2 separate regions of the Homo sapiens genome follow, and region 1 is linked to region 2. Evidence: fine-mapped expression QTL. A gene starts in region 2. The other region holds a variant in brackets. All regions are shown on one strand. Distances are from middle to middle.

Evidence for each region. PIP is the estimated chance that this variant, and not a neighbour inherited with it, causes the effect. A credible set is the group of variants that fine-mapping cannot tell apart.
Region 1: its variant is the best candidate, but not a certain one, in a credible set for the expression of TIGIT in whole blood (INTERVAL, PIP 0.81).

What each region holds. Positions count from the first base shown.
Region 1 is chr3:114,182,382-114,185,298 of GRCh38, forward strand. It overlaps a transcript of DRD3 not described here. Among named protein-coding and RNA genes, the nearest start is that of DRD3, 4.8 kb to the left of the region's middle. The variant T/G (reference allele first, on the strand shown) is at 1,521.
Region 2 is chr3:114,292,520-114,295,429 of GRCh38, forward strand. It overlaps TIGIT (T cell immunoreceptor with Ig and ITIM domains), which reads left to right and starts at 1,509. Exons shown (of 4, transcript NM_173799.4): 1 at 1,509-1,603. The coding sequence starts at 1,543.

The DNA of each region.
Region 1 (2,917 bases), 110 kb before region 2:
AAATAACAGAAGGAGGCTTCTCAATCAATCAGATTTGTACCAAATCACTCATTATAGGTAGCAGAGTAATAGTAAGGAAGGAAATAAATAAATGATAGTGGTTTTTTATATCTGCATCTACCCTTCTGTGTGCTTGCATGTTACCTCCCTTTTCTACTTCTATCTTAACTTTTCGACCTATTTTCTTCCTGTTTTTTACTACCCTCCATCATCATCTAATTTTTTCTTTTTTTCTTTTTCTGTTTTTTGAGACAGAGTCTCCGTCTGTCACCCAGGCTGCAGTGCAGTGGTGCAATCTCGGCTCCCTGCAACCTCAGCCTACCAGGTTTAAGCGATTCTCTAAGTACCTCATATAAGTGGAATCCTACTATATTTGTCTTTTTCAGACTGGCTTATTTCACTTAGCATAATGTTCTCAAAATTCATTGATATTGAAGTATATGTCAGAATTTTCTTTCTTTTCAAGGCTGAATAATATTCAATTGTACCACATTTTGCTTTTCTGTTCATCTATGGATGACACTTAAATTACTTTCACATTTTAGCTATTGTGCATGACACTGCTATGAACATAGGTGTTCAGATATCTTTTTGAGATCCTGTTTTCAGCTCTTTTAGATATATATCCAGAAATGGAATTGCTGGTTCATGTGGTAATTCTGTTTCTAATTTTTTGAGGTACTACCATACTGTTTTCCACAGCAGCTGTATCATTTTACATTCCCATCAATAGTGCATGAGTGTTCCAATATCTTCACATCCTCAAGAGCATTATGCCTCCATTGTAATTTATTCTTTGATCCACTGATTCTTTAAAAGTGTGTTGTTTAATTTCTACAAATATGTGAGTTTTCCAGTTTTACTCTGTTATTGATTTCTAATTTCCTCCCATTATGATCAGGGAAGACTTTGTATGACATTTGTCTTTTAAAATCTATTGAGACACAATTTGTGGCCTAACATATGGCCCATCCTGGAAAATGTCCCATGTGTACTTGAAAAGAATGTGCATATCATTGTTGTTGGGTAGAGTGTTCTGTATATGTCTTTTAGGTCTAGTGGGTTTATTGTGTTGTTTATATCCTCTATTTTCTTACTTATTTTCTGTCTGGTGGTTCTATCTGTGATTGAAGGTGGAATGTTAAAGTTTCCAACTATTAATGTAGAATTGTATATTTTTCTCTTTAATTCTACCAGTTTTTGCTTCATGTATTTTGATCGTCTGTTATGAGGCATGTTAATGTTTAAAATTGCTCTATTTTCTTGTTGTATTAAATATTTTATTAATATATAATACCCTTTTTTATTTCATAATTTTTTGACTTAAATTCATTTTTGTCTGATATTTGTCTAGCCATTCCTGCTCTCTTTTGGTTACTATTTGCATGAATATCCTTTTCCATCTTTTCACTTTCAACCTATTGTATCTTTGTTTTCTTTTTCTCTTTTTTATTATTTTTGTGTGTGTCTTTGGATCTAAAGTTAGTTTCTTGTAGACAGTATATCCAGCAATCATGTGT[T/G]TTTTATCCATTCTGCTGATCTCTGTTTTTTGATTGGGTAGTTTAATCCATTTACATTTAAAGAAATTACTGATAAAGAAGGACTTACTTCTGTTGTTTGCTATTTGTTTTCTATATGCCTTATAGCTTTCCCACATCTCACTCTGCATGACTCTTTTTTGTGTGTGTTTAGTTGATGTTTTGTGGTGAAATGTTTAATCTCCTTTCTTATTTCCTTTTGTTTATATTCCTTAACTATTTCTTTTTGGTTGCAGTGGAGATTACATTTAACATCCTAAAGTTATAATACTCTAACTGGAGTTTATACCAGTCTAACTTCAATAACATAAAATATCTGGTCCTCTACTATTCTTTCTTCACTCTTTTTGGTTGTTAATGTCATAAAATTATACCTTTATATATTGTGTAACACCAAACATAAACTAATAATTATTTTAAATGCGTTAGTCTCTTAAATTATATAAAAAACAAAACATGGAGCCACAAACCAAAGTTACAATAATGTTAGCTTTTAGACTAATGATTGTTTTCTTTTAAATGTATTAGTCTCTTAAATTATGTAGATAGCAAAATACTACTAGCTTTTATAAAGGTCCTTGCATTTATTGAGCTCTTTGTTTCTTCATACAGCTTCAAGTTACTGTCTAATGTCCTTTCATTTCACCTTGTAGGACTCCCTTGAATATTTCTTGCAGGGAAAGTCTAGTGGTAATGTGGTAATGCTCCTCAGCTTTTGTTTATCTGGCAATGTCTTATGTTCTCCTTCTTTTCCTGCTTCAGTCCCCCAAGTAGCTGGGACTACAGGTGCATGTCACCATATCTGGCTAATTTTTTGCATTTTTAGTAAAGACAGGGTATTGCCATGTTGGCCAGGCTGGTCTCGAACTCCTGAATTCAAGTGATCTGCCCACCCTGGCCTCCCAAAATGTTGGGATTATATGTGTGAGTCACTGCAACTGACCTCCTTCACTTTTGAAGGACAATTGTTCTGATATAAAATTCTTGGTTGACAGGTATTTTTTTCTTTTAGCATTTTGAATACGTTGTCCCACTACCTGATGGGCCAAAGTTTCTCATGAGAAATTTGTTAATATTCTTACCAAAGAGCCCTTGCATATGATGAATCAGTTCTTTTTTTGCGCTTTCATAATTCACTGTCCTTATATTTCAGAAGTTTGATTATAGTGAGTCTTGGTGTGGGTTCATCTTGAAGTTCATTGTGCTTCTTGGATGTTTATGTCTTTCATCAGATTTAGAAACTTTTCTGCCATTATTTCTTCAAATATTCTCCTTACCCTTTATCTAGCCCTTCTCTTTCTGGTGCTGTCACAGTGTGTTAGTTGGTTCACTTGATGGTGTCTCCTATGTCTTTTAGGCTCTGTTCACTTTTCTTCAAT
Region 2 (2,910 bases):
TAGTGTCCACCACTTTCTGTGCTCTAGTCCCACTAGCTGCTCTTGGCCCTGCCACTCCTGGCTCCCCGGCCTTAGTGAGTTTGGGAAACATCCCTCCAGTTCAACCTTGGCACCTTCCCTTGGACACACATTAGGTATTATTTCTCCTTCAGCTGAAGGCTTTGTAGCTATTGAAAGGCAAGGCATCTCTTGATGTGAGCCTTGAAGGACAGGTTGCTTTGGGTAGGCAGAGAGAAGCTGGTAAGGCGTATATTGTCTAAGGGTCTGGAGGTGGGGTATAAGGGGTATACAAGTCATAGAGTTGGGGATAGGCAGAACCCAGAGAGGGGAGAAAACTGGCCTGAGATAGAAGACCTTGCAAGGGAGAAGGAGGGTAGGAGCCTGGATGGTGTGAAATGCTAGAGGTGCATGGCTGGAATGGAGGGGGTGGGGCACCAGGCTTCAGATGCTTCTGGGTGCAGATGCAGATTTTCAGGATGTACAACATGGAGCATCCCCAAGGCAACTGTGTTGAGAGCCTGCGAGGCAGGTGAATGTGGATCTTCTACCCCCTCTCCTGACTGAGTTCACCAAGGAACAAGCTTTGTAAACTATTTGAGGGTAGGGGCTGTGATTATTTACTCTCATATCCTCAGAGCCTGGTGTTGAGGTTGGTGCTTTGTAGGCACCCAGGGACTTTCAAATGAATGAAGGGAGGGAGGGAGGAAAGAAGGATGGGTCCATAGTAGGACCTGGTGATGGGCTGGGAGCTCCAGGCAAATGTCAACCAATCCCTCTCCTGGGTCAGCTCCCAGGGGCTCACCCTTCTTTGCATTTCCAGCTCTCATGAGGTCATTGTGCACAGGAAAGCTCTCTCCTCTAATCTCCTCTGATCCTACTGCACCAGAGAAATCAAGCCAGAATTCAATAAAGTCTCAGTCCAGATAAACAAGACAAAAGAAATAAGATTCGAGTAGAAGATCTCCTTCAAGGGAAAGTTGCTGTGTTTGTCCAAGACCTTTGTCCCATCCATGTATCATCCCCCAAGTAAACACTTCTTGTTCACCTGTTCATTAGATTTCAAGTGCAGTCCCTGGCCTGTAAGTCCCTACAATGATAAGCTTCTCTTATCATTGCACATTCTTCATCAGGAGGATGCCAGAGGAGCTCAGCCAACAGTTCCTCATCAGTAGCAGATTCTTCAGAATCTTGGGCACTACACAGATGCCCTTGAGCTCTTTGAATAAAGGCTGATTTTTAGAAAAAACATTAAGACAGAACTTAAAAACAATAGATTGACTATAATCCAAAGACGAGTGTACCTCTAACCACAATTTTCATTTATTTTTAAATGTTTCCTTCATGGCCTTTCTTGTGGCTCACCCTATGCAGTTTGTGTATTTGTTGACAACTTTATGTGTTTTTAATATGGTTTTTGCCAAACTTGGTTTTTCCGAGACCGTCTTTTCTCAGAGGCTCAGTTTTACCGTCCTATCTGCAGTCGGCTACTTTCAGTGGCAGAAGAGGCCACATCTGCTTCCTGTAGGCCCTCTGGGCAGAAGCATGCGCTGGTGTCTCCTCCTGATCTGGGCCCAGGGGCTGAGGCAGGCTCCCCTCGCCTCAGGTAAGGCCTGAAACCCAGCAGAGCAGCAGGGAGGAAAAACAAGGCTAAGCTTGGTTGGAGACTTGGGTGCTTGTGTAGGGAAGACTCCAAGAGCATGCCACAGCTGCTTGAGAGAAAGAAATTGCAACTTTTAGAGTCCTGTGTACTCTTATTTAAGAAAGGACAATCTCTGAGAATGAGGTGGGGTTCTGTTTTTGGTGGCAGATGAAGGACTTTGCAGACTTCCGGGGTTGGAGGAGCCTGACTGGCCAGCACAAGAAGGAGCAGGAGAAGAAGAAGGGCTGGGCAGGAGGCATTGCCAGTTTGCTTTTAGAAGCTCATTCCTGCTCCAGCTTCTTTTCTGTTGCCTTTCAGGAACTTTCCAGGAAAACATTATAAGTTCTCTGTGAATTGAAAATGTCTTTTTCACAGATTCCAGAGGTTCTACCACTAGAGACTGATTTTTTGTTAAATTTATTTCTTCTATATTAAAAATCAGAGTCAAATATTTCTGAGGGAGGGGAACACAAATATTTAAAAACTGTGGTATAAATTAGTTTTTATGTTGCCTTCTGAACTATCTGAGGATGGAGATGTGCCCAGGGTTGCTGGGGAGAGGTTAAGTGCTGAGAGGGTGGTTATGCCTGGGAGAAGCAGGGTTTCCTGCTAAGCTTCCTTTGCTATTGGATTTCTTGGCTTTCCTGAAGGTTTTTTCAGGCACTGCAAATGACAATCAACCAAACAGCAAGGTTTTATTTCAAAGGATAATGCATCCAGCATAGAACTAGGCCGCAGGAAGAAACATAAAAACAAAACAAAATAAAAACAGAAGAGGTGGTATCAGCTGACAAGGGCTTATATTCTAAGTGGGTAGACAAAATAGGCCTACGAAAATAACAAGCTGGCCATGAAGCTACATAGCAGAATATGCGAGGGGGCAACGTGCTAAGTTGTGTAGTCATAAGCCAGGCATTTAGTAAGGTGCTAATTATACAATACAGGCAGTGAATGTGAAAGGAAAAGGGAGGTTGAGATGGGCTGAGGTCTTCTAGGAGGCGGGGAGGGAGTGCAGCCTTGACAAGCCTCCCTGTGGGCGAGGTGTAAAGAGGGGCAGAAGTCAGCTCTGGAAGCATAGGGCAGTGGGTGGGGAGGAGATGGGCTGGGCTGGGCTGGAGTAGAGATGTGTGGAGAAGGGTGAGAAGACTGGAAAGACAACCTGAATGGGGGACTGGGAGCCTTGAATAACAGGCATGGAGAGGAGCGTCTCTTGAAATGGAAGAAACAGGAAATAATTACAGCCTCTATGGAGGAGCAACAGGATGGACTGG